Linked DNA regions of Homo sapiens: region 2 is linked to region 1. The links come from fine-mapping of genetic effects on gene expression. A gene starts in region 1. The other region holds a variant in brackets. All regions are shown on one strand. Distances are between the middles of the regions. Region 1 holds the start of PPP2R5B (protein phosphatase 2 regulatory subunit B'beta). Region 2 overlaps BATF2 (basic leucine zipper ATF-like transcription factor 2).

Region 1 (13,299 bases):
AGGAATTCCTGAGTAGCTGGGATTACAGGTGTGAGCTACCCCACCTAGCCTGTGTTTCTATTTTAATCTTACTTGGGAGCTGGACTCTTACATTCTAATGCCAAAACTCAGCCTGAAGCAAGGGCAACCGCCCTGGCCCACCGGGCAGGGACCTGTATTCCAGTCCCACCCATGGGTGGTTTCTTCTCCTCTTGTGACCCTCAGTTTTATCCTATGTAACTGGGGTTGGGTTAGTAAGTGGAGATAGTTCATTACCTGGAAGGAGCAGGCTCCATTCAGGGAGGCAGGCTGATAGGACAGCCATTCAGAAAGTGCTTATGGGCCAGGCACGGTGGCTCATGCCTGTAATCCCAGCACTTTGGGAGGCCAAGGCGGGTGGATCATGAGGTCAGGAAATCGAGACCACCCTGGCTAACACAGTGAAACCCCATCTCTACTAAAAAATATTTAAAAAATTAGCAGAGTGTGATGGCGGGCGCCTGTAGTCCCAGCTACTCGGGAGGCTGAGGCAGGAGAATGGTGTGAACCTGGGAGGCGGAGCTTGTGGTGAGCCAAGTTTGTGCCACTGCACTCCAGCCTGGCTGACAGAGCGAGATTCTGTCTCAAAAAAAAAAAAAGAAGAAACTGCTTGTGGAAGGAATCTAGAGCTCTGCCTTCTTCCATGGCAGGCTGGGGGCAGTACTGTGCTCACCAACTGATTATTACATTAATAATAATATACCGGGTTGGGTTGCTCACTCCTGTAATCCCAGCACTTTGGGAGGCTGAGGCAGAAGGATCGCTTGAGCCCAGGAGTTTGAGACCAGCCTGGGCAACATAGCTGAATCCCTGTGTCTACAAAAAAAAAAAAATGTTTCAAAAAATTAGCCGGGCGTGGTGGTGTGTGCCTTTGGTCATTTGAGCCCAGGAGTTTGAAGTTGCAGTGAAGCTATGAATGCACCACTGCACTCCGGCCTCGGTGACAGACGGAGATCTTGTCTAAAAAAAAAATTAATAGTAAATATAATTGCCACCATGAATTAAGCCTGTGTGATGTCCTAGGCCTTGGGCTTGTTACTTTACGTGCACGATCTCATCTGCTCTGCTGTTCACCATATGCTCATGAGGGAGGTTCTATTAATATCCCCATTCTTAAGGGAGAGGAGACCAAGGCTACGTGCCTAAATGCTGTGGAGCGAATGAATGAAAAAGCATTAAGATTCAGAAATCATAAAAAGAAAAAAGAGGCTTGGAACAGTGGCTTACACGTGTAATCCCAGCATTTTTGGGAGGCTGAGGTGGCCAGAGTCACTTGATCCCGGGGGGCAGAGGTTGCCGTGAGCTGAGATTGCACCACTGCACTCCAGCCTGGGTGACAGAGAAGACTCCACCTCAAAAACAAAAAAAGGAAAGAAAAAAGAAAAAACACCACTTCTCCTCCTTCCAAAGGTGGTGGGGATAGAAGGGGATATTCTCTTGGTCCAAGAAAAGTTATCCTTTCTAGGCCCCTGGAGCCACTCTGGGAGTTTGCTCTCCTCCAGTGAGGGAGACCCCAGGGTCAGGCTGCACTCACATCTGTCTGTTGTAACTGAACTGGTGGGCACATCCGTCTCTTAGGGGTTGGTGCCTGCAGGTCCATTCCTGAGCCCCAGTTCCCAGTGCCATGTGTGTACCACAGCAGAAGATTAGACAGGACTGAGAGGACACAAAGATACTTCCCCAGACAAGCTCTGTAGAAAACCAACTCCAGAGACAGTCATTCTCCAACCTAGCCTCGGAGTAGGAGCTAAAGGAGTGAGCAAAAAATCCTCGCACAGTAAAGGGGACGATATTCTCTTGGGAGGAAATGGGGTGTTGGGAACCCCATGGGACATTCTGCAACGAAGTCCCAAGCCCCACTTTAGGTCCAGCAGTTATTTTTTTTTTTTTTGAGACGGAGTCTCGCTCTGTCTCCCAGCCTGGAGTGCAGTGGCGCGATCTCAGCTTGCTGCAACTTCTGCCTCCTGGGTTCAAGTGATTCTCCTGCCTCAGCTTCCTGAGTAGCTGGAATTACAGGCGTGCACCACCACGCCTGGCTAATTTTTCTGTTTTTAGTAGAGATGGGGTTTCACCGTGTTGGTCAGGTTGGTCTCGAAGTTTTGACCTCATGATCTGCCCGCCTCGGCCTCCCAAAGTGCTGGGATTACAGGTGTGAGCCACTGCGCCCAGCCTTCGGTCCAGCAGTTCTATATATATATATATATGTAATTTTTTTTTTGAGCCAGTACCTCATTCTTGCTCAGGCTGGAGTACAGGGGCATGATCACAGTTCACTGCAACCTCTGCCTCCCGGGCTCAAGCAATCCTCCCACCTCAGCCTCCCCGAGTAGCTGGGACTATAGGCTCGTGCCACCATGCCCAGCTAATTTTTCTATTTTTTGTAGAGATGGAGTTTCACTATGTGGCCCAGGCTGGTCTTGAACTCTTGGGCTCAAGCAATCCACCTGCCTCTGCCTCCCAAAGTGCTGAGATTACAGGCATGAGCCCCTGCACCTGGCCTAGGTCCAGCAGTTCTAACAAATACACTGGCCCTGGGCACTGCATTTAGGGGCTTCTTCTACTGGACAACTGGATTCCAGTCAAGAGGTCAGGGGAAGTTTGGGGTCAGGATTCCTCCCCATAGAGAGAAAATGGGGAGGGCCAGGCTTTGCCCAGGCCGGGGGGCATCCTTCCCACCTTAGATTAGGTGAAAACTCATCAGGCAAACTGTGTGCTTCAGACCTCAGGGGCCCTGAAGGAGTATCTCCCTCCCCCCAGGGATGGCCCACCCTCTGGGGTGAGAAAGGGATCACAGAGGTGGCCCGGGGGCTGCGGCTTTTGACTCTGTCCTGGGTGGAGAGCTTGGGTTTTATCAGAGGGAAGGGCTTTCATGGAGGAAGAGAGGCCATCCCTCAAGGATGGGTGGAGCTGGAGGGAGGAGATCCCAGGCAGCTGGCAGGGAACTGGGTGTCCAGGCCAGAGGAGCTCCTCCAGGTAGCTCAGGGGCAGCCAGGAGAACAGGGGGATCTGGAACACACCTGAAAAAGCAAACTTCATCTATAAATACATGGAACTTCATCTATAAATACAATACTGTTGGATTGTACAACTGAAATTGGTGACTTTTTTTTGTTTTGAACATACATCTTTCGTTGCATATAACACAACGTGATGCATTTCGTTTAAATTGTGGTAAAAGCCACACATGGTGGCTCACACCTGTAGTCCCAGCACTTTGGGAGGCCAAGGCGAGAGGATCACTTGAGTTAGAGACCAGTCTGGGCAACATAGCAAAACCCTGTCTCTACAAAGAATACAAAAAATTAGCCAGGAGTGGTGGCATGCGCCTGAGGTCCCAGTTACTCGGGACTGAGGCTGAGGTGGGAGGATTGCTTGAGCCCAGGAGGCAGAGGTTGCAGTGAGCCAGGATCGCGCCACTGCAAAAAAAAAATAAAAAAATAAAATAAAGCCGGGTGCAATGGCTCACTCCTGTAATCCCAGCATTTAGGAGGCTGAGGCGAATGGATCGCTTGAGCTCAGGAGTTTGAGACCAGCCTGCGCAACATGGCGAAACCCTGTCTCTACCAAAAAAAACAAAAATTAGCCTGGCATGATGGCGTGCATCTGTGGTTCCAGCTACTTGGGAGGCTGAGGCAGGAGGATTGCTTGGGCCTGGGAGGTGGAGGTTGCAGCAGTGAGCTGAGATGGTGCCACTGCACTCAAGCCTGGGTGACAGAGTGAGACTCTGTCTCAAAAAACAAACAAACAAAAAATGTTCAATCTTGCATCCTCCAAGTGACACTGTGCCTATTTTGAGACCCAGTTCAAATGCCACCACTTCAGAAGTCTTTTTTTTCAGCCGGGCACAGTGGCTCACGCCTGTAATCCCAGCACTTTGGGAGGCCGAGGTGGGCGGATCACGAGGTCAGGAGATCGAGACCATCCTGGCTAACACGGTGAAACCCCGTCTCTACTAAAAATACAAAAAAACTAGCTGGGCTTGGTGGTGGGCGCCTGAAGTCCCAGCTATTCGGGAGGCTGAGGCAGGAGAATGGTGTGAACCCAGGAGGCGGAGCTTGCAGTGAGCCGAGTTTGTGCCACTGCACTCCAGCCTGGGCAACAGAGCGAGACTCCATCTCAAAAAAAAAAAAAAGTTTTTTTTTTCTTCCAAGAGTCTTATCCCTCTCCTCTACTCTTCAGTGCCCCATTTCTCAAATGGAACATCTCTGTTTTTTGTTTTGTTTTTGAGACAGGGTCTCTGTCACCCAGGCTGGAATGCGACAGCACAATCACAGCTTACTGCAGCCTCTAACTCCTGGGCTTATGTGATCTTCCCACCTCAGCCTCCCAAAGTATTGAGATTACAGGTATGAGCCATCACACCTGGCCTTAGCACTTCCTTTATATAAAACACCAGTCCTCTGTGGTCAGTCTAGCCTTGAGACCAGGGCACTGGTACCCAGGGGGCTTGTGGAGATGGGCTGTAGCCAGCTGGGAGGTGGAAGCCTGGCCCCTGGCCCCAACTTTTGATGACACGCTGTGTGACACTGGGCAAGGCGCTTCTCCTCTCTAGGCCTTGGGGTCCTTGCCTGGCTGCAGAGGCTCTGTGGGCCTGCCCTCCCTCAGCTTGTTCAGGGATGCAGAAGAGCCTGGGAGGTGGGCAAGGAGGGAGATCATGGATTCCCATTGGACAGACAGGGACACCAAGGGCCGGATGGGCAAGGCCTGCCGGAGGTTCCTGAGCAAGCAGAGCACTTGCTGGGTCTCCAGTGCCGGAGTCCTGGACCCCAGCCTGGTGAACTGCGGCCCTCGGTGCAGGCCTCTGCCTTCTGTTGCTTTGGTAGGCGGACACCTCTTGCGCACCCAGGCTTCCTCTGCAACCGGGAGGATGGCTGGGTGGTTCCGCTGGAGCACTGAGTGGTCACCAAGACCCAAAGCAAGATGGGGCAGACTCTGAAAAGGCCCCTAGTCCCCTCCCCGACCTCATTATCTGGTCTCATCACCCTTTCCTACTGCTCACCATGGACCAGCTGCTCATCCAGGCAACATTTCAGGGTGGAGATTTCACAGCAGTGTAGCGGGATGGAGTTCAGGGCTATAAAGAGTGTTGGGGTCCAGGATCCTAGGACGGGGGCCCAGGACTGCAGGCTGGGAACTTTTGGTTAGCATGCCAAACTCCTGGACTCCCACCTGTGCCTTGCATGCCAGCAGCAGGATTTTGAGCAAGAGACACTGACCCACCCAGCACATCTTAGGGTCCAGGGGGGCTGAAAGGTCCATCCGGGAAGGCCAGGCTGCCTGGGATGAGGTGGCAGCTCAAGGAGAAAACCTCCTCCTCTCGGGCTTTGCCACTCCAAGACTGGCCCTTTAAACTGGAGACCATGATGTCACCATAGACAGCAAGGGACGGGAGGGGGACTGCAGGCCTGAGGATGGACTGCATCTCCCAGCAGGCTTGGGTGCACCACACCCCTCCCAGCAAGCACTGACTCATCGCAGACTTTTAACTAGTCCAGTGCTGGTTTCCAAGGGGTTTCTGAAGTGTCTGGTGGTTCTGGGGTAAGGGTGAGGTTCCTGGGGGGATGGCCTAGGGCATAGAAGGCCCAGGCCAAATCTGTGGGCCTAGCGTAGCTTGCTGCGACTCCTTCCTGTCAGTGTCCTGGCATCACCCTACTTTCCTGGTGCAAACTCCTAAGCCCTCCTCTTTCCCTATGCAGCCTCCCTTCTAGAATCCAGGCTTCCCGCCCCCGGCTAGAGCCCATCCCACTCTGCTCTCTGGCTTCAAAAGCTTCGGCCTTCACCCCCGAGTCTGCCCTCAGGGGTGTCCCCTTTGGTCTGGCAGCTCACTTTAAACGGCGCGGGGACTACATCTCCCAGCGGCCCCGGGCCTTCCTGACGCAGCCCCCCCTTTCAGCCCGCGGGGAGGTGCGGGCCGGGTGGGGGGAGGTGACTTGATGTCATCCTGAGCAGCTGGGCGGCGGGTGCCGGTGCGCACGGAGCCGAGCCGGGGCTCCCGTTGCGCTGCACCGCGTTGGGTCGGAGTCCCAGGACTTCAGCGGAGATCCGCGCGCTGCGACGGCCGGTGCAGAGCCCGCCGAGCGCCCAGTCCCGGCCCGGGGCTGAGTTGGGGGCATGCTCTAGCCGCCCCCCCGGAGCCCGGGAGAGAACCCAGGAGCGCCGCCGCCCAGCCCCAGCGCCCCGAGCGGAACCGCTGCGAAGGGGCCCTGAACGGCCGTCGCCCTCCCTACGGGCAGCCCCCGGGGGTTGGCGACCGAAGTCTAGGTTTTCGAGAAGTGAGTGTCCCCCACCCCATGAGGTTTGGGGGGCCAGGAAGGAGGAGCTGAGGTGGGGGAGGGTGCCAGGTTCTAGGAGCGGGGTGGCATCGGGACAGCACCTCCAGTCTTGGGGTTGTCCCAAGTGGCCGGGATTAGTGGAGCAGCGATGCGTTCCATTCTGAAAGGGGCAGGGATGACGATCGGGGCTCCATTCTGAGTCGGGGCTGGCTTGGGGGATAGGCCCTATTCTGGGAGGGGTTGTTTTGGAGGCTTTCTGTCTGAGAGAAGGGAGGGACATGTCCAGGATGGGAGGGGGCTGCACCCCTATTTTAGGGTCTGGGCAAGGATAGGAGGGAAAAGACCTGGGCACTCCACGCAGCCTCCCGGCTCTCCTGAGGAACTGATGGGCTTTCTCTGTCTCTTTCTTGCTGATCTTTCTGCCTGACTTCGTTTTCAAAAGAGCCAGGGTGGGAACCCTAACTGGACTCTTCGGGACCCCCAGGAAGGATCTGAGGCCTGAGCCATCCTCCTTTCTACCCTGTCTGCCCCCCAGGACTGGGCAGTTGCAGGAGGCCCTGGGGGGGGGCCCAGGACTGTGGTTGTGCCCCCCCCCCAAAGGCCGGACAGGATGGGACCAAGTTAGTCTGTCCAGTCTCACCCAGCACCTCCCAGGCCCAGAGAGAACCCCCGGGGCTCTGAAAGCTTGCCCTGCCGCCTGACCGCCATGGAGACGAAGCTGCCCCCTGCAAGCACCCCCACTAGCCCCTCCTCCCCCGGGCTGTCGCCTGTGCCCCCACCCGACAAGGTGGACGGCTTCTCCCGCCGTTCCCTCCGCAGAGCCCGGCCCCGCCGCTCCCACAGCTCCTCTCAGTTCCGCTATCAGAGCAACCAGCAAGAGCTCACACCGCTGCCCCTGCTCAAAGGTGAGCTGGCTGCTGGCCACTGGGGGAACCGAACCCCCGAGGGGACCAGCAGGGCCATGGGGAGGGGTGGGAGGCAGCGGGCAGCTGCCAAGAGAGAGAGTTTGGATACCCCTCCAGGCTAGGTTCTCCGCCATCAGAACTGACCCCAGCCCTCCAGCCCTCTCTGCTGACACATGGCCTGACTGGCCTGTCATCCTTAGAGGTGGGACATCCGAAGGTGGTGCCACCCTAGGGGCAGACCAAGGCCAAGGGTGGGGCCCATAGCCTGGGTTCCAGGGGGCCACTATCAGCCCAGCCAGCTGCCAGATCCCTGGAGCAGGCGCTTGGCAGGGTTCCCTGGGATCACCACATAGGTCCCTTCCCCAGCCTTGGGCCATAGGGCCAGACTGGCCAAGCCTGAGGACACCGTAGAGATCCTTGGCCCTGAACCCCTCCCCATTTCTGGCCCTTAGAACAGGGTGCCACCTGAGAGGGAGGCAGCAGCTGTTTGGGGCACCTGTGGAAAGCTGCTGCATCCAGGATTTGTGATCTTGCTTTAAAACTCAGGCCATCATACTCTCTGAGCCTGGATTAGGAGGAAGAAAAGCAACCCTCAACCCCCAGGAATGGAGGAAGGGACAGTAGTTGTTTGCTGTCTGCAAGGAGCAGGAGATGGCACAAGAGCATGGGGCCTGGGGGCAGCAGAGGCAGCCGTGGAGATTAGGAGGGTCTGCCCCACCCACAGCTGGGGCAGCTGGGGGAGCTGGGGCCCAGGCCCAGGATGCCCTCTCCTCCCCAGATGTGCCGGCTTCCGAGCTGCACGAGCTGCTGAGCCGGAAGCTGGCCCAGTGTGGGGTGATGTTTGACTTCTTGGACTGTGTGGCCGACCTCAAGGGGAAGGAGGTGAAGCGGGCAGCCCTCAACGAGCTGGTGGAGTGTGTGGGGAGCACCCGGGGTGTCCTCATCGAGCCCGTCTACCCAGACATCATCCGCATGGTGAGCACCTGCCACCCAGGCTCCGAGGGCCGGCCGAGAGGGCGTGTGAGCCCCGTTTCCTGTCCGCAGGACCCCTGCGTGGAGAATAACCCTGTACTCATCGGCTTGGCCTCAGTCCACGTCTTCCTTCCCCCCGACCTGCTGCTGCCCAACACCCACTGAATGCCTCCGGGCCTGCCCCACGTCCACACCTTTGCTTATGCTTGCCTGAGACCTGGAGTGCCCTGCCCCACACCCCATACCATCCATGGCCTGGCTCAGGTGCCGCCTCTGCCAAGAAGCCGCTGTCAATAACCAAGCTGGAAATCTCCCTTTTCCTGCCCGTAGACCTCACAGCTTCTAGCCTTGTTCTCCCCACTGGATTGCACCTGCCTAGAAGGCAGGGATGTGTCCCATTCACCCCTGGGTTCCCAGCCCCTGGCCCAGGGCTTGCACGAACTAGGCGTTCAGGTGATGATTGCCCAAGGAATGAACTGCTTGCTGGGGCAGATGCTGAAATCAACCCATTAGAACTTTGAATGAGGGCCGGGAGCAGCAGCTCTCATCTGTAATCCCAGCACTTTGGGCCAAGGCGAGAGGATCACTTGAGGCAAGGGGTTCAAGACCAGCCTGACAGTGAGACCGCATCACTACAAAAATTTAAAAATTTGCCGGGCATAGTGGTGTGCTACTGTAGTCCAGCTACTCAGAAGGCTGAGGTGGGAGGATCGCTTGAGCCTGCCTGGGAGGTTGAGGTTGCAGTGAGTCGAGATTGTACCACTGCGCTCCAGCTTGGGCAACAGAGCGAGACCCTGTCTTGGGAAAGAAAAAAAAAAAAAAAGCTTTGAATGAGAGACTCCCTGGCTTCTGTCTTCAAGGGCTTTTCCTTAATGAACCCCAACTCTGCCACTCAGATCTCAGTGAATATCTTCCGGACTCTGCCGCCCAGTGAGAACCCTGAATTTGACCCTGAAGAGGATGAGCCCAATCTTGAGCCTTCGTGGCCACACCTGCAGGTCTGAAGGGTTGGGGAAGACAGAGATCCAAGTTTCAGAAGAGATCCAAGGCATGGGGAGAGGGCCTCCTTAGCCCCTAGACAGTTGGATGAGGGCCATAGGGTGGAATGAGTGGGTGAGGCTGTTACTGAACTCACCTTTTTGTCTGTCCCCCTCCCCCAGCTGGTATATGAGTTTTTCCTGCGTTTCTTGGAGAGCCCAGACTTCCAGCCCTCCGTGGCCAAGAGATATGTGGATCAAAAGTTTGTCCTGATGGTGAAGTGGGGAGCCCAGGCTGGGTGGTACCACAAGGCAGGGGCAGGCTCTCTGAGGGGCCAGGGATAGGATGGAAGCAACCTGGGGTGGACCTTTCCCCTGACCCTGACCCTGACCCTGACTCTGGTTCCCACAGCTCCTGGAGCTATTTGATAGTGAGGATCCCCGGGAGCGTGAGTACCTCAAGACCATCCTGCACCGGGTCTATGGCAAGTTCCTGGGTCTCCGGGCCTACATCCGCAAACAGTGCAACCACATCTTCCTCCGGTGAGTGGCTGCTGCCTGCCCAGCAGAGACCTGGGGAGGGTGAGAGGGCTGTTAGAAGACTGCGGCAAAGGCCATGTGCGGTGGCTCACACCTGTAATCCCAGCACTTTGGGAGGCCGAGGTGGGTGGATCACCTAAGGTGAGGAGTTTGAGACCAACCTGGCCAACATGGTGAAACCCCGTCTCTAATAAAAATACAAACATTAGCCAGGCATGGTGGTGGGCACCTGTAATTCCAGCTACTTGGGACGCTGAGACAAGAATTACTTGAACCCAGGTGAAACCCCGTCTCTACTAAAAATACAAAAAATTAGCCGGGCGCGGTGGCGGGCGCCTGTAGTCCCAGCTACTCGGGAGGCTGAGGCAGGAGAATGGCGTGAACCCGGGAAGCGGAGCTTGCAGTGAGCCGAGACTGCGCCACTGCAGTCCGCAGTCCGGCCTGGGCGACAGAGCGAGACGGATGAACCCAGGAGGTGGAGTTTACAGTGAGCCGAGATCATGCCACTGCACTCCAGCCTGGGCAACGGGGAGACTGTGTCTCAAAAAAAAAAAGAAAAGAAAACAAAAAAAAAGAAGACTGCAGCAAAGGCTCCTGGGCTGCAGGGGCCCTTGTAGAACTTCTGTTTTCCAAGCCCTTTCTCAGTAACGTATTACATATTGATTATACAAAGCCTGTGAAGTTGACAGAGAATGGGTATTTATTTCCATTTTACAGATGAGAAAGTAGAGGCCAAGAGAGATGAAATGGTTTGCAGGGACTGGGTCAGTCCAGGGGCCTAGGAGCTAAATCATTTGACCCTTATCATGCCAGGCCATAAGGACCCAGAGAGAGATTCTTTCTGCAAACATGCACTGAGCACCAGCACCCACTGGGCATCAAGGCTCACGTGGCCTTGTAGTTGAGACCATGGCTCTGAAGCTGTATGGCCTACATTTGAGTTTGGTTCCAACGTTTGGGTGAACTTTGGCAAATTACTTAAGCTCTCTCCTAGTTTGCTCGTCTTTAAAATGGGAATGCTGGCTGGGTGCAGTGGCTCATGCCTGTAATCCCAGCACTTTGGGAGTTGGAGGTGGGCAGATCACTTGAGATCAGGAGTTCAAGATCAGCCTGGCCAACGTGGTGAAACTCCGTCTCTACTAAAAATACAAAAATTAGCTGAGTGTGGTGGTAAACACCTGCAATCCCAGCTACTCAGGAGGCTGAGGCAGGAGAATCGCTTGAGCCTGGGAGGTGGAGGTTGCAGTGAGCCAAGATTGCGCCACTGCACTCCTGCCTGGGCGACAGAGCGAGATTCCATCTCAAAGATAAGATAAAAATGGGGATGCTGCTTGTACTAACTCAGGGACCATTATCGAGGTGACATGGGGCCTTGCCTGCAAAGCACTCAGCATAGCTCCTGGACTGAGGCCGGGACTCTGAAACATTAGTTGTTATTAGCTACAAAATGGGTGAGCCATGATCCCTGTCCTCCTGCACCTTGGAGTTCATTAGATTCCCTGCCTATTAACATTGGGGTTGTTTTATTTAACCGCTGAGTCTTGATTTCTTCATCCATGTGATGGATTTCTTAAGCCCCATCTCCCTGGATAATTCTGAGACTTACATGGTACGGAGTAGATGTGCTAAGTGTTTGTCATTCTCTTGGTTGACTGGCAAGAGAGCCTTGAGCTTGGGACTCAGTGGCAGAGGTGGCTGGGCTGAGAAGGGCATTTCAGTGTGGGGGGGCGGGGATCTCAATGGGGCCTGGTTTGGGATGTTGGGAAGGGAGCGCAGCCTCTGGGTTGGGGGAGAGTTGGATGAGCGTGCCGTGCAGGTGAGGGTGGGCAGGCAGGATGCCTAAGGGGGCACTGGGCCTACCCTGCTTGCTTTGAGCCCACCTGCGTTCTTCTCTTGCAGGTTCATCTATGAATTCGAGCACTTCAATGGTGTGGCTGAGCTGCTGGAGATCCTAGGAAGGTGATTCTCCCTGGGCCTCAGCTGGAGCTCAGGATTCTGGAAGGAGGGACTGGGGCCAGGTCACCTGAGCCCTCTTCCTCTCTTCTGCCTCCTCCTCAGCATCATCAATGGCTTTGCGCTGCCCCTGAAGACGGAGCACAAGCAGTTCCTGGTTCGCGTCCTGATCCCCCTGCACTCTGTCAAGTCGCTGTCTGTCTTCCATGCCCAGGTGAGGCCCAGGCCTGTCCCTGCTGCAGCAGGAGCTCCAGACAGTCAGGGCAGCCAGTGGGTCCTGGAGGTCAGATCCTCCAGGGATCCTATCTCACCTTCTTTGTCTTTATAATTCTGTTCCATCTACCTTAGAAAATTCCCACTGGCGCTTTAAGGCTAACCTCAGATATCAGCTCTGTGAAGCCAGGCTTTTCTTCTCTACCCTCCCTTGGCAGAATTACATTCTTCTCCATCTATATTCCCAAATATTTGGATACACAAATCTATTATGGGAGATTTTGATACACAATTTTTTTTTTTGAGACAAAACCGTACTCTGTTGCCTCAGCTGGAGAGCAGTGGTATGAACATGGCTCACTGAAGCCTCTACCTGCTGGGCTCAAGCAGTCCTCCCTTCTCAGCCTCCCGAGTAGCTGGGACCACAGATGTATGTGCCACATGCCTGGCTAATTAAAAAAAATTTTTTTTTTGTAGAGACAGTGTCTTGCTATGTTACCTAGGCTGGTCTCAAACTCCCAGGCTCAAGTGATTCTGCTGCCTCGGCCTCCCAAAGTGCTTGGATTACAGGCGTGAGCCACCACACTAGCCATATTATGGAACCTTTTGCAAAATTTATAAAGATGAGTTTGTTGACTGTCCCCACTCCCCGCGAGATCAGAGTTGTATTCCCAGCACACTGAATGTGATGCCTGGTACATCCTAGGCAGGTGATAAATGCTTGGTGAATAAGAAAGTAACAGGCCGTGGGTGAGCAGTATTTGGCATTCTGTCCTGGACAGCAAGTCCTTGGCGCCTGGTGCCTTCCTGACCTGTCTTCCTTCCCTCCACCTGTCACCCCCTGCAGCTGGCATACTGTGTGGTGCAGTTCCTGGAGAAGGATGCCACTCTGACAGAGCACGTGAGTACCTCTGGGGGCTAAGGCAGCCTCTCACCTCTGCAGGCGTGACTCCTGTCTCATCTCCCACAGGTGATCCGGGGGCTGCTCAAATACTGGCCAAAAACCTGCACCCAGAAGGAGGTATGAAGAAGGGCTTTGATGCCCGCCAGAGGGAGGCTGGGAGGGCTCGGCCTCTAGAAGGCAGTCAGGTGTGTGTATGTGTAGGGGGAGATGTGAGCTGCTGCCCCTCTGTCCCTACTCCCCTCCCCAACCCACCCAGGTGATGTTTCTGGGGGAGATGGAAGAGATTCTTGATGTCATCGAGCCCTCCCAGTTTGTGAAGATCCAGGAGCCCCTTTTTAAGCAGGTGGCTCGCTGTGTTTCCAGCCCCCATTTCCAGGTATGAGGCAGGACAGGCGGGGATGGGAGCAGGGCTGGCCTGGAAAGGTTGGGTAGCTGACCTAATAAAGCTCCCTTTGCCCTCAGTTTCTCCTCCAATCCCGGGTCTGGTAATGGGGAGATGCTGGACTTAGGGTCAGGAGACCTAGGGTGAAGCCTCGGACCTGCCT
Region 2 (15,636 bases), 56 kb after region 1:
ACGTTGAGCACCTTTTTATGGGCCCTTGGGATTCTTGAGAATTAATAAACCTATACCCTAACTCAGAAACAATTTACAGTGCTAAAGAGACTCGTATGGATTCAGACTTAGCCTGCCATACTGGAACATTTCAACAGCAACGCTCGCAGATGACAACAGAATTCAAAGCACATATACCAGATCTGTCAAGCCAGCCAGCACATGGCAAAAGCCTGGCAACAAAAAATAGCATGCTGTGTGTGTGTCTGTCTCCAAGAAGTTCAGTGTTACTTAACTATAAGAAACAGGTGGCCGTGTGCAGTGGCTCACACCTGTAATCCCAGCACTTTGGGAGGCGGAGGCGGGCAGATCACCTGAGGTCAGGAGTTTGAGACCAGCCTGGCCAACATGGTGAGACCCTGTCTCTACTAAAACAAACAAAAAACACACCACAAAATCAGCCAGGCAAGGTGGCATGCACCTTAATCCCAGCTACTTGGAGGCTGAGGCAGGAGAATCACTTGAAATCGGGGGGTGGAGGTTGCAGTGAGCTGAGACTGCACCATTGCACTCCAGCCCGGGCAAAAAATGTGAAACTTCATCTCAAAAAAAAAAAAAAAAAAAGAAAGAAAGAAAGAAAAGAAAAAGAAAGAAACAGGTGTGGAGTGGCAGGAGATATGGTTGAGGGGAGACACAGGGGCTAGACTACGAAGAAGCTTGTGCTGAGGTACTTGAGGTACTTGAATTTATCCCTACAGCAATAAGATGCTCTTAAAAGTTGGATTTTGGTCTCAGAAATATGTTCCTGAGGCCAGGCGTGATGGTTCACACCTGTAATCCCAACACGTTGGGAGACAGGAGGATCTCTTGAGGCCAGGAGTTCAAGACTCGCCTGGGCAACATAGTAAGACTCCATCTCCACAAAAAAATAAAAAAAATAGCCAGACATAGAAGTGCATGCCTGTATTCCCAGTTACTCAGGAGGCTGAGGGGGAGGATTGCTTGAGCCCAGGGGTCCAAGGCTGCAGTGAGCTGTGATCATGCCACTGCAGTCTGGCCTGGGGGACACATCGAGTCCCCCCGCAAAAAAAAAGTTCCTGGAACCTGGCTTCTTCATTTTCATTTTCATTTTCATTTTCTGCCTGCTTATTCTTACTTATCCTTCAAGGCCCAGCCCAAATGCCACCTCCTCTGAGAAGCCCTCTGTAATCCCCCTAGCCAGAAGATCAGGTCCCTTTTTTTTTTTTGCCTTTCCTTGTATTGACTGGCCAGTCTGCTTGGAGGGTGGGAACTGCAATTTACACCACTTTGGGCTTTTTTTTTTTTTTTTTTTTTTTGAGACGGAGTCTCCCTCTGTCGCCCAGGCTGGAGTGCAGCGGTGCGATCACGGCTCACTGCAAGCTCTGCCTCCCGGGTTCACGCCATTCTCCTGCCTCAGCCTCCTGAGTAGCTGGGACTACAGGCATCCACCACGACACCTGGCTAATTTTTTGTATTTTTAGTAGAGACGGGGTTTCACCGTGTTAGCCAGGATGGTCTCGATCTCCTGACCTCGTGATCTGCCCGCCTTGGCCTCCTGAAGTAGTGGGATTACAGGTGTGAGGCACCGCACCCGGCCACTTTGGGCTTCTTATGTGGCTTGACAAGGGATCTAGCACATAGAAGGTGCTAACCCATGTTTGATGAATGTTGATGAATTTTCAAATGAAGGAAGTTTACTGGGCAATCCAGCTCTGGAGTCCTGTCAGATTACACCAGTATTAGTTCTCAAACGTGGGCATGCATCAGAACTACCTAGAGGGCTTGTAGATTGCTGGACCGAGCCCCCAAGTTTCTGATTTAGTAGATCTGGGGGTCTGAGAATTTGCCTTTTGAACAAGTAAGTTCCCAGGTGCTGCTGCTGCTGGTAGAAGGGACCATACTCAGATAAACTTTGGATGAAACATTCTTTACATGTGGCTGTGGGTATAGTTCAAGTGCTTCTGAGAATCAAGCTCTGGCGGGGACACTCTCAAGGGACCATGAATCCTGTGCTTTATCACAACCATCTGACCACCTGACCCTTCAAGGGATGTCCTTGGTCTTGACTACTGTCCCACTCCTTTGACTTGGAGGCAGGATTACTTTACCCTCTCCTGGTCCCTTTATTTATTTTAATTAATTTATTTATTTTTGAGACAGAGTGTCGTTCCAGTGTCGCCCAGGCTGGAGTGCAATGGCACGATCTCGGCTCACTGCACCCTCTGCCTCCTGGGTTCAAGCAACTCTCCTGCCTCAGCCTCCCAAGTAGCTGAGATTACAGGTACCCACCACCAGGCCTATCTAATTTTTTTTGTATTTTTAGTAGAGATGGGGTTTTGCCGTGTTGGCCAGGCTGGTCTTTAACTCCTGACCTTTGGTGATCCACCCACCTCGGCCTCCCAAAGTGCTGGGATTACAAGCGTGAGCCACTGTGCCTGGGCTATTTATTTATTTATTTGAGATGGAGTCTCGCTGTTGCCCAGGCTGGAGAGCAGTGGTACAATCTCGACTCACTGCAACCTCTGCCTCCTGGGTTCAAGCAGTTCTCCTGCCTCAGCCTCCCAAGTAGCTGGGATTACAAGTGTGCACCACCACACCCGGCTAATTTTTGTATTTTTAGTAGAGACGGGTGTTCACCATGTTGGCCAGGCTGGTCTGGAACTCCTGATCTCAGGTGATCCGCCTGCCTCGGCCTCCCAAAGTGCTGGGATTACAGGTGTGAGCTACCATGCCCGGCCCTCTCCTGGTCCCTTTCTCCCAGGGACTCCCAGAAAGGCTTCTCAGAGGGGCCCTGGTCACATTGTCACATTCTGTAACTGGCTTTCCTCCCCCTAAGCAGTTCAGTCTGAGAGCCCCAGAGAACAAAACAAATCCTGTCCTAGGAAGAAGCCTAGCACCTACTGAGGAAGAATTGAGTGCTGGGAATAGGGCCCCCATTAACAGCCAGCCCCTGAAGCTCTTAGGGAAATGCTCTGCAGACCCATGATCTCCCCAAGAGGGTCAGAACCAGGTCTTGTTCCTTAGAGAGCTGCTGCTGCTTCTTGGGCCTGTGCAGCTTCCCAGCCTCCAAGGCTGAGGGAAGGAGCCACTTAATCAACAGCTCCATTTCCTGCAGCACCTGGGGCTCCCCAACCCCTACCACCTCCCTTTGGGCTTCCCAGGTCAATTACCTGCCAGGCAACGGGCCTCAGCTCAGAAAATCTGACCAGCCAGAGACTGGTCTGACGGGGCCATGGGGAATTGAAATGACTTGACTCAGAGAGGCAACCCTGGGGGTAGGGACAGGGGGATCTGCCCCCACCCTTAGGGTAGTGTAATTCAGTCTTCAGTTTACCACTCCCTCTCTGTGTGTTGGGTGTCTGACTCACAGTAAGGCTGTGAAACCCATTGACCATCCAGGTATGAGCCTTGTGGAGATTGAAGAGGTGATGGGGTGGGATAGGTTTGCTCAAAGAGGCCTCCAAATCCTTCCAGGCTCAGCCCAGACCTTGAAGGCCTTTTTGCAGTTTTAGTAACACGAGCCGATTCCTGCGGTTGGTGGCTGTCACAGGACAGAAGCAGAGGACCCCAGCAAGGAGGTGAACCACTAACCCGGGAGTCCCCTCCCCAACCACAGAGATCCTTCAGAAGAGCTCTCTTTGGCTATGTTTTGTGTTTGAATCTAACTCAAAAGACCAAGCTGTTAGAGGCTCAAGTGTTCCCAAGAATCGTCCATGAAAACTGTTGTAGACACTGGGTCCAGGCCCACCCCAGGGAGTCAGACTCAGGAGTCTTGGCATGATTGAGAGATCTGTCCTAGGTTATTTTTACCCTGACTGGAGTCTCTTCCCTGTCCGCCCCCTCACCAGATAAACAGAAGCCAAGACACAAGGAGGAAAGCTTGCAAGGGCCTGGGTACGCTGTCGGATGTAGTGGAGGCAGGACTGGCCTCTCTGGAGAGACTTCAGCATTCTCTGCTTTGAAAAACGGGGCTGTAGACCTTTTAAAATGGCATGCATTTCTGCAGGAACACAAAGACACTTACAGTCCCCAAGGAATAGTCTCTCTCCTGCAGGATGGGAATGCCCCCAGAAGGCACTGAACCACTAATCCAAGAGGAAAGTTCTCAGATTCCTTCTTGCCTCAGGTCCCCCATATCAGACCTGAGGTTTTTCCTTCAACCCTCCCTGAGCACAGGCTCTGATCTGTCCATGGTTCTGATTTTTAATGGATTTCACTTGGGGGCAAGTCATGAGTTTTTTCATTCACTTGGAGTAGTTAACACTTACTGAACACTTACTATATGCCAGGGACTGTGAGCTACTCCTTACACGCAACCCCCTTTTTCCAAAGTAACCAGACATAATAGAAAAAACCACAGGTCAGGCTGGGCGTGGTGGCTCACGCCTATAATCCCAGCACTTTGGGAGGCCGAGGCGGGCGGATCACGAGGTCAGGAGATCGAGACCGTCCTGGCTAACACGGTGAAACCCCGTCTCTACTAAAAATACAAAAAATTAGCCGGGCGTGGTGGCGGGCGCCAGTAGTCCCAGCTACTCGGGAGGCTGAGGCAGGAGAATGTCGTGAACCTGGGAGGCGGAGCTTGCAGTGAGCCGAGATCCCACCGCTACGCTCCAGCCTGGGCGACAGAGCCAGACCCTGTCTCAAAAAACAAAACAAAACAAAACAAAAACCCACCACAGATCATAAATGTGTAGCTCAGTGAATTTTCTTTTTCTTTTTTGAGACAGAGTCTCGCTCTGTCGCCCAGGCTGGTCTTGAACTCTTGGGCTTAAGCCATCCTCTCACCTGGCTTCCCAAAGTGTTGGGATTACAAGTGTGAGCCACCATGCCTGGCTGAACATATACTTTTCTATTATACCTATCGTATTAGTTCGTTTTCACACTGCTGACAAAGACATACCTGAAACTGGGAAGAAAAAGAGGTTTAATTGGACTTACAGTTCCACATGGCTGGGGAGGCCTCAGCATGGCGGGAGGCAAAAGACACTTCTTACATGACAGCAGCAAGAGAAAAATGAGGAAGACGCAAAAGAAGAAACCCCTGATAAACGCATCAGATCTCGTGAGACTTACTCACTGTCACGAGAATAGCACGGGAAAGATAGACCCCCATGATTGAATTACCTTTCCCTGGGTCCCTCCCACAACACGCGAGAATTCTGGGAGATACAATTCAAGTTGAGATTTGGGTGGGGACACAACCAAACCATATCACCTATCTACATTATACATTCATATATTTGTGTATATACACACACACATATATGTTGGGTGGACTGTAGGTGGGTACCTTTTTAAATCTCCATTTTCCAGATGAGAAAGCTCAGTCTTGAAGTTGAATGAGGAAATAATAGAGCTGAGATTTGAACCTAATCCTGTCTGGCCCTGGAGCCTAAGCTGTTTCACCACTAACCGCTATGCTCCACTGCCTCCGAAAGCATAGGCTTTTTTTTTTTTTTTTTTTTTTTTTGAAACAGAGTCTCGCTGTCGCCCAGGCTGGAGTGCAGTGGCACGATCTTGGCTCACTGCAGGCTCCATCCCCTGGGGTTCACGCCATTCTCCTGCCTCAGCCTCCTGAGTAGCTGGGACTACAGGCGCCTGCCACCACGCCCGGCTAATTTTTTTTGTATTTTTAGTAGAGACGGGGTTTCACCGTGTTAGCCAGGATGGTCTCGATCTCCTGACCTCGTGATCTGCCCACCTCGGCCTCCCAAAGTGCTGGGATTACAGGCGTGAGCCACCGCACCCGGCCAGCATAGGCTTTTTAAAACTACTCATTGGCCGGACACAGTGGCTCATGGCTGTAACCACAGAACTTTGGGAGGCCGAGATGGGAGAATCGTTTGAGGCCAGGAGCTCGAGACCAGCCTGGTCAACATAGCAAGACCCCATCTCTAACAAAAATTTTAAAAAGTAAAAAATTAAAAAATAAAAGTATTCATTATGTGTCGGCCAGGTGTGACTCACGCCTGAGAATCTGGTACATTGGGAGGCCGAGAAGGGAGAATCACTTGAGCCTGGGAGGTCAAGGCTGCAGTGAGTTGTGTTTGTGCCATTACACTCCAGCCTGGGCCTCCCTGTCTCAGTAATAATAATAATCATAATCATTATGTGCCACACTGGTTGCTATCATTGAGGGAGGGAAGAGGGTAGCAAGACACAGTCACACAAAAAGGAAGATGACAGAAAAGCACAGGACGGGCATGGAGAGGAAAGCAGGTCACTTTTTTTTTTTTTTTTTTTGAGACGGATTTTTGCTCTTGTTGCCCAGGCTGGAGTACAATGGCATGGTCTTGGCTCACCACAACCTCTGCCTCCTGGGTTCAAGCGATTCTCCTGCCTCAACCTCCCGAGTAGCTGGGATTACAGGCATGCATCACCATGCCCGGCTAATTTTGTATTTTTAGTAGAGACGGGGTTTCTCCATGTTGGTCAGGCTGGTCTTGAACTCCCAACCTCAGATGATCCGCCTGCTTTGGCCCCTCAAAGTGCTGGGATTACAGGTATGAGCCAACGCGCTGGGCCTGCAGGTCACTTTTATCTTGGAAGATTACAGGAGGCTTCCTGGAGAAAGGAGCATTTGAAAAGGAAGGATGGGGCCGGGCGCGGTGGTTCACGCCTGTAATCCCAGCACTTTGGGAGGCCAAGGCGGGTGGATCACTAGGTCAGGAAATCGAGACCATCCTGGCTAACACGGTGAAACCCCGTCTCTACTAAAAATAGAAAAAATTAGCCGGGCGAGGTGGCGGGCGCCTGTAGTCCCAGCTACTCAGGAGGCTGAGGCAGGAGAATGGCGTGAACTCAGGGGGACAGAGCCTGCAGTGAGCCGAGATCGCGCCACTGCACTCCAGCCTGGGCGACAGCGAGACTCCATCTCAGAAAAACAAAAAGGAAGGATGGGGGCAAATTCTGGGCATGAAGGAGTGATAAGGGAAAGACTATCAGGCTGAGAGCTCTGGGTGCACAAGAAAACACAGGCTGCAAAGGCCCTCAGAGGTCATCTTGCCCATCTCTCATTGTCCACCAACCTACTGATGGCTTCCAAATTTATTTATCCAGTCCTGACATTTCCCAGACTCCAGACTCTTATTTAAACCAGTTGGATGTCAAATAGGTATCCCAAATTTAACATGGCCAAAATAGGGCTCCTGATCCCCACCACCAAACCCCAAACTGCCCCTCTTCCAGCCTTTCTTGGTTTTTGGCACCACCAACCATCAATTGCTCAGGTCCCAAATCTCAGTCATCCTTCCTTCCTCCCTTTCACCACACTCAGTCCATGAGCATATCCCATCAGCTGTATCTGTAAAGCACACCCTGAATCCGACCACTTCTTTTCTGTCAGTTTTTAAGTTTTGTGAATACACAGTAGGCATGCATGAGATGTTTTGAATACAAGCATGCAAGGCACAATAATCACATCATGGAGAATGAGGTATCCACCCCTTAAGCATTTATCCTTGGTGTTACAAACAATACAATTACACTCTTTTAATTATTTCCAAGTGACAATTACATGATTATTGACTATAGTCACCCTATTATATGCCATCAAATAGTAGGTCTTATTCATTCTTTCTACTTTTTTTTTGTATCTGTTAATCATCCCCACCTCCCCCCACCCACCCCCAATCCTCTTCCTAGCCTTTGGTAATCATCCTTCTACTCTCTATCTCCATTAGTTCAATTATTTTGAATTTTAGATCCCACAAATAAGTGAAAACATGTGATTTTTATCTTTCTGTGCCTGACTTATTTCACCTAACATAATGATCTTCAGTTCCATCCATGTTGCAAACGACAGAATCTCATTCTTTTTATAGCTGAACAGTACTCCATTGTGTATATGTACCACATTTTCCTTATCCATTCTTCTGTTGATGGACACAGGTTGGTTCCGCATCTTGGCTATTGTGAACAGTGCTGCAACATGGGAGTCAGATATTTCTTCGATATACTCATTTCCTTTCTTTTGGATCTATACCCAGCAGTGGGAGTGCTGGATCATATGGTAGCTCTATTTTTAGTTTTTTGGGGAACCTCCAAACTGTTCTCCATAGTGGTTGTACTAATTTACATTCCCACCAACAGTGTTCAAGGGTTCCCTTTCTTCCACATCCTCGCCAGCGTTTGTTACTGACTGTTTTTGGGTATAAGCCATTTGAACTGGAGTGCGATGATATCTCATTGTAGTTTTCATTAGCATTACTCTGATGATTAATGATGTTAGCACCTTTTCATATGTCTATTTGCCATTTGTTTATCTTCTTTTGAGAAATGTCTACTGGAATCTTTTGCCTCCCCCCACCTTTTTTTTTGATTTATTTTTATTTTTATTTTTTTTGAGATGAAGTCTTGCTCTGTCACCCAGGCTGGAGTGCAGTGGCATGATCCGAGCTCACTGCAACCTCCACCTCCTGGGTTCATGCAATTCTCGTGCCTCAGCCTCCCGAATAGCTGGGATTATAGACACATGCCTCTCAAAGTGCTGGGATTACAGGCACCTGCCACCACACCTGGCTAATTGTTGTATTTTTAGTAGAGACAGGATTTCGCCATGTTGGCCAGACTGGTCTCAAATTCCTGACTTCAAGTGATCTGCCTGCATCAGCGTCCCAAAGTTCTGAGATTACAGGTGTGAGCCACTGTGCCCAGAATTGTTGCCCATTTTTAAATCAGATTATTAGGTTTCTTTCAAGAAAATAGGAAGAAAAATTTTTCAAAAAAGATTATTAGATCTTTTCCTAGAGAGTTGTTTGGGCTCCTTATATATTCTGGTTATTAATCCCTTGTCAGATGGGCTGACCTCTTCTTACCACCTCACTGCTTCCATTCACACCCCTGAACAATCTGATCTTTTTTAAATGTCGGGCTCCCTGATTCATGGAAAAAAGGCAATGCCCTTGCAGTGGTCTGTATGATCTGGCCCTTGGTTACCTCTCTGACCTTATCCCTGACCAACTGACCATCTCTGACCCTCCTTCATTCCCTCCCTCCAGCCACACCAGCCCCCTGGCTCAAATGTTTCAGGCTCACACCTGCCCCCAGGCCTCGGCACTGGCTGTTTCCTCTGCCTGGAACTCATCTCCACCTGGCTAATTCACTGCCTTCTTCAAGACCTTGCTCAAATGTCCTCTGCCTTTTTTTTTTTTTTTTGAGACGGAGTCTCACTCTGTCACCCAGGGTGGAGTGCAGTGGCGTGATCTCTGCTCACTGCAACCTCCACCTTCTGGGTTCCAGAGATGCTTGTGCCTCAGCCTCCCAAGTAGTGGGGACTACAGGCATGCGCCACCATGCCCTGCTAATTTTCTTTTTTCTTTTCTTTCTTTCTTTTGTTTTTGAGATGGAGTCTTGCTCTGTTGCCCAGGCTGGAGTGCAATAGCATGATCTCAGCTCACCGCAACCTCTGCCTCCTGGGTTCAAGCAATTCTCCTGCTTCAGCCTCCCAAGTAGCTGGGATTACAGGCATGTTCCACCATGCCCAGCTAATTTTTTTTGTATTTTTAGTAGAGATGGGGTTTCATGTTGGCCAGTCTGGTCTGGAACTCCTGACCTCAGGTGATCCGCCCACCTTGGCCTCCCAAAGTGCTGGGATTACAGGCGTGAGCCTCTGTGCCCAGCTGCTAATTTTCTTTTTGTGTGTGTGTATTCTTAGTAGAGAAGGAGTTTGAGTTTTGCCATGTTGGCCAGGCTGGTCTTGAACTCCTGGCCTCTAGTGATCTGACCACCTCAGCCTCCCAAAGTGCTTGGATTTGAAGCCACTACACCTGGCTTCAAATACTCTCTTCCTATTGAACTGACGTTGACCACTCATTTTATTTTATTTTATTTTATTTTATTTTATTTTATTTTATTTTATTTTATATTTTATTTTATATTTTATTTTATATTTTATTTTATATTTTATTTTATTTTATTTTATTTTATTTTATTTTATTTTATTTTATTTTATTTATTTTATTGAGACTGAGTCTCGCTCTGTCACCCAGGCTGGAGTGCACTGGCGCGATCTCGGCTTACTGCAACCTCCACCTCCCAGGTTCAAGTGATTCTTGTGCCTCTGCCTCCTGAGTAGCTGGGATCACAGGTTCCTGCCACCACACCTGGCTAATTTTTGTATTTTTAGTAGAGACGGTGTTTTGCCATGTTGGCCAGGCTAGTCTCGAACTCTTGACCTCAAGTGATCCTCCCACCTCAGCCTCCCAAAGTGCTGGGATTACAGGCATGAGCCACCGCGCCTGGGCGACCACCCTATTTTAAATTGTACCTTCTCCACCCTGACCCTCTCAATTCCTCTTTTCTTGTCTTACCCCTCTTGACCCAGCTTCCCTATTAAATATAAGCATTTTTGTCTGTTTTGTTCTCTTCTTTATCCCAAATGCCTAGGATAGTGTTTGAAAAGAGGAGCTGAATATATTTTAAATGAATTTAAAAATCAGAGGCTGGGCACGGTGGCTCACGCCCGTAATCCCAGCACTTTGGAAGGCTGAGGTGGCTGGATCAATTGAGGTCAGGAGTTCGAGACCAGCCTGGCCGACATGGTGAAACCCTGTCCCTACCAAAAATATAAAAAATTAGCTGTGCGCGGTGGCAGGCACCTGTAATCCCAGCTACTCAGGAGGCTGAGGCAGGAGAATCTCTTGAACCCAGGAGGCAGAGATTGCAGTGAGCCAATATCGTGCACTGCACTCCAGCCTGGGCAACAGAGCAAGACTCCGTCTCAAAAAAAAAAAAATCAGTGTACATCTCTGTTTAAAATTCTCCCACTCACGGCTGGGTGTGGTGGCTCACGCCTGTAATCCCAGCACTTTGGGAGGCTGAGGCGGGCAGATCACGAGGTCAGGAGATCGAGACCATCCTGGCTAACACGGTGAAACCCTGTCTCTACTAAAAATACAAAAAATTAGCTGTGTGTGGTGGCAGGCGCCTGTAGTCCCAGCTACTTGGGAGGCTGAGGCAGGAGAATGGCGTGAACCCGGGAGGCAGAGCTTGCAGTGAGCTGAGATCGCACCACTGTACTCCAGCCTGGGCAACAGAGCGAGACTCCATCTCAAAAAAAAAAAAAAATTCTCCCACTCACACAGGAAGAATCTCACATCCTTCTCATGGCTTACACAATTTTTCTGGCCTCTTCTCAGACTTCATCTT[T/C]CCTTTTCTCTTCCCTGATTCTCCTCCTCCTTTCTTTTCTCTTCTTCTTCTTCTTTTTTTTTTTGAGACAAGTCTTGCTCTGTCACCCAGTGTGCAGGGGCATGATCATGGCTCACTGTAGCCTTGACTTCCTGGGCTCAAGCAATTCTCCCATCTCAGCCTCTCGAATAGCTGGGACTACAGGTGCATGCCACCACGCCCAGCTAATTCTTTGAATTTTTAGTAGAGACAAGGTCTTGCTTTGTTGCCCAGGCTGGTCTCAAACTCATGGGCTCAAGCCACCTCGGCCTCCCAAAGTGCCGGGATTAGAGGTGTGCACCACTGCGCCCAGCTGGCCTACTCCTTTCTGTTCCTCTAACATGTTTAGTGCTTTTTCTTTTTTTTTTTGAGGCGGAGTCTCGCTCTGTTGCCCAGGCTGGAGTGCAGTGGCGCCATCTCGGCTCACTGCAAGCTCCACCTCCCGGGTTCACACCATTCTCCTGCCTCAGCCTCCTGAGTAGCTGGGACTACAGGCGCCTGCCACCACGCCCGGCTAATTTTTTGTATTTTTAGTAGAGACAGGGTTTCACCGTGTTAGCCAGGATGGTCTCAATCTCCTGACCTTGTGATCCGCCCGCCTCGGCCTCCCAAAGTGCTGGGATTATAGGTGTGAGCCACCGTGCCCAGCCTACGTTTAGCGCTTTTTCCAGACCCGGAGTTTTTACACATGGTATTGCCTCTGAGTGGCATGTTCTTTCCCTAGATCTTTGCATGGCTGACTCTCTCTTGTCATTCTCATCTTGTCAGGTCTCATCCTGAATGACACCTCCTGAGAGACCCTTCCCTTGAATTCTCTATTTTTTTTTTTTTTTTGAGGCAGGATCTCACTCTGTCATCCAGACTGGAGTGCAGTGGCTCGATCATGTCTCACTGCAGCCTCGACCTCCCTGGCTCAAGCAATCCTCCCACCTCAGCCACCCAAGTAACTTGTTTTTCCGCCCAAGACGGAGTGTTGCTCCATCGCCCAGGCTGGAGTGCAGTGGTGTGATCTCGGCTCACTGCAACCTCTGCCTCCCGGGTTCAAGCAATTCTCCTGCCTCAGCCTCCCGAGTACCTGGGATTATAGGCACCCGCCACAATGCCCAGCTAATTTTTGTATTTTTATTAGAGACAGGGTTTCACCATGTTGGCCAGGCTGGTCTTGAACTCCTGACCTCATGATCGCCTGCCTTGGCCTTCCAAAGTGCTGGGATTATAGGCGTGAGCCACCGCGCCTGGCCAAGCATTCTTTATTCAGCTTTTCAGTAGTCCATCACATGAGTGTACCAGCATTAATTGAATCACTCCCATCTATTTGTTTGAGGGTGGGGTAGAGTTTTACCTTCTTGGGTCATATCTATTAGCATGTGCTGCCCCTGAAGTCTGGGCCTGCAATGAGAATCCAGGAAGGTTGAAGGCTGGGTTGCCTGCAGCTAAGGGCTCCTGATTGTTGAACCAAGTCTATATAGTTTCCTAGCTATGTGACCTTGGACTTATTACTTACTACCTCTGGACCTCAGTTTCCCTTTCTCTCTCTTTCTTACAGCTCTAGCTCAAAGACAGTTTCCTCTTCTGAACAGTGGGGTTGAGAAGCATACGTCACAGAGTTACTAGAGGCATCATTGAGTTAATCCAAGTAAAATAGCACAGAGCCTACTATACTTTAGGGTATACAGATACAGCACGACCATGCTGTCCTCATCCTCCACTGAGTCCTCGTGCCCAGAGTATGTTGAATCCTGTCCCAGACTCCAGCCCACCTCTAACCAACAGCACCTTCGCTTCCCTCCCACCTGTTTGCTTTCCCTGAATCGCTGGTGACCATGGCTCTGCTGCCATCCACAGCCCTGTGACTTCCCTTTGCTATGTGAACCTGGCACAATGGTTACTTGTATGTGTCCTCTTGGCTGGGCCACAGTGCCCAGATATGTGGTCAAACATTATTCTGAATGTTTCTGTGAATGTGTTTTTGGACGAGATCAACATTGAAGTTGGTGGGCTTTGAATAAAGCAGGTTGCCCTCCATAATGTAGGTGGGCCTCATCTAATCGACTGAAGGCCTGAATAGAACAAAAAGACTAACCTTTTCCAAGCTAGAGTAAGTTCTGCAGCTGGTGGCCTTTGGACTTGAACTGCAACAGCAGCACTTTCCTGGGGCTCCAGCCTGACAATTCACCCTGAAGAATTTGGACTTGCCAACCTCCATCATCACATGAGCCAATTTCTTAAAATAAGTCTCCCTTGGCAGGGCGTGGTGGTTCACGCCTGTAATCCCAGCACTTTGGGAGGACAAGGCGGGCAGATCACTTGAGGTCAAGAGTTCGAGACCAGCCTGGCCAACATGGTGGAACCCCATCTCTACTAAAAATACAAAAATTAGCTGGGCGTGAGGCTGGGTGTGGTGGCTCATGCCTGTAATCCCAGCACTTTGGGAGGCCGAGGCAGGCAGATCACAATGTCAGGAGATCGAGACCATCCTGGCTAACATGGTGAAACCCTGTCTCTACTAAAAATACAAAAAAAAAAAAAAAAAAAAAATTAGCCGGGCATGGTGGCAGGCGCCTGTAGTCCAGGAGACTGAGTCAGGAGAATGGCGTGAACCCGGGAGGCGGAGCTTGCAGTGAGCCGAGATTGCACCACTGCACTCCAGCCTGGGCGACAGAGCGAGATTCTGTCTCAAAAAAAGGAAAAAATTAGCTGGGTGTGGTGGTGGGCACCTGTAATCCCCACTACTTGGGAGGCTGAGGCAGGAGAATCACTTGAGCCCGGGAGGCGAAGGTTGCAGTGAGCCGAGATTGCACCATTGCACTCCAGCCTGGGTGACAAGAGTGAAACTCCATCTCAAAAAAAAAACAACATTAAAAAAAAAATCTCTCTGTCTTCACACACACACACACACACACACACACACACTCTATTGGTTCTATTTCTCTAGAGAACACTGACTAATACACCTGCGCAAGTCCGTCTCATCTCTGAGCCTCAGTTTCCTCATCTGTAGTATTGGAGGGAGATTAATTAGCTGGTTCATGAGGGGTTGCCCATCTCTGTTATTCTCTCTTTTTTCAAAGACTCTGTAGGTTACAAAGAGAGGTTTAAGTAACTAGGCAAAGCAGAAAAGATTGCAAAACACTTTATTTCCATCACATATGTGCCAAGACTTGTGTTCTGTATCCAGGAGTGTGTTAGATACTAACATAGTGTTTCATTTACATGTGTGTGAAACCTGGGTGAAGAGCCAGGGTTTCTCTCCCCCACCCGCCTCAGAGTGCTTGTCCTGGAATCAGAGTGTAAAACCCCCTCTTGAAGCAGACACCAAAACTGAACTTCCACCCGGTCATGGGCCCTGCTCTTCCTGCTGTCAGCCTAGTCCAAAGAGCAATGAGGGAACTGCTTAGGAGGGGTCTGAGGGTGATGAGGGCCTGGGGGCCACACAGGGGTGGGTGCTGTCAGGTACAAGCCCATCCCTGCCTGCAAATAACCTTGCACAGGGTCCTTCCTCATTCTTTCCTCTTCCTTTTTGTTTATGAGATGAATGGCTCTTCTGCTGTGGCTTTAGGGGCAGTGGGGAGGCAGGGAGCTATTTGGGAACAGCCTGGAAAGCTGACCCTGCAGAATCTCCCAGAAGCCTTGGTGTGGCTATGGGTACCCAGGCTGTAGAAATCCCAGATGGTCCTCTTCCAGACCTCTCCCCAACTCCAGCTCACAGTTTCAGCTTCTTGGCACTGAAAACACTACTAGGGGAAGCAAGAGTCCACTTCAGGGCTTCTGCTTGGCCTCTACCCACCAGGGCTTGGACTCTGGACCTGCCCCAGCTAGGTTGGGGTTTCTGGGACTGCATGGCTCTGGCCCTGGAATCACGAAGCAGTGGGGAGAGCCCTTCTCTGCTCTGAGCATGCAAACCTTCTCACACCAGCCCACGGTTTCCAGGATTTCAGCCCCTAGGATGCCTGGGCCAGGACAGGAGAAGGAGGAGCAGAGGGTGGTGTTTCGGGCTCCAAGAAAGTCTTCGTGACCTTGGACTTGTCACTTGGCTTCCCTGAGCCTCAGTTTCCTTGTCTGAAAAAGTGGAGTGATAATCTCGATTTCTCAGGTCAACTGTGAGGTTGAAATAAGATATTGGTGGTGACAGGGCCTGTCACAGTGGGAGGCATCAGTGGTGGCTTCCTTTTCGACTGTGAAATCCTGGGCCAGCTGGTCAGCCACGCAGGGCAGCACCCAGTAGTGAGGGAGGAGAGGCCCGTGTGCTAAGGCTGCTTCCTGAGCCCAAAGAAGGGGCCAACCCAGCTCCGAAGACCAGGTTAGAAGTGGACTTGAGCAGAGGAGAGCAGAGGAAAGGCCAGGAGAGGGTGAGGGCTGGGATCCACAACCAGCCCTTGCCAAGTGGCTGCTGAGAGAGCAGGTTTGTGCTCCCTGCTCTGCAGACGTGCAAGCCCCAGGGCAGAGGAAGGGTTGTCGGGAGAGGAC

Evidence for each region.
Region 2: its variant is fine-mapped to the expression of PPP2R5B in whole blood (TOPMed, PIP above 0.99).

Annotation. Positions count from the first base shown.
Region 1 is chr11:64,918,739-64,932,037 of GRCh38, forward strand. It overlaps PPP2R5B (protein phosphatase 2 regulatory subunit B'beta), which reads left to right and starts at 5,951. Exons shown (of 14, transcript NM_006244.4): 1 at 5,951-6,290; 2 at 6,733-7,195; 3 at 7,974-8,170; 4 at 9,064-9,165; 5 at 9,328-9,420; 6 at 9,557-9,687; 7 at 11,584-11,643; 8 at 11,743-11,851; 9 at 12,698-12,751; 10 at 12,821-12,871; 11 at 13,011-13,130. The coding sequence starts at 6,997. RefSeq lists enhancers at 4,912-5,709, 5,330-5,399, 5,540-5,709, 8,658-9,857 and silencers at 5,820-6,039, 6,140-6,249.
Region 2 is chr11:64,973,659-64,989,294 of GRCh38, forward strand. BATF2 (basic leucine zipper ATF-like transcription factor 2) reads right to left here. Exons shown (of 3, transcript NM_138456.4): 3 at 14,287-15,636. The coding sequence ends at 15,471. Among named protein-coding and RNA genes, the nearest start is that of MAJIN, 9.4 kb to the left of the region's middle. The variant T/C (reference allele first, on the strand shown) is at 11,152.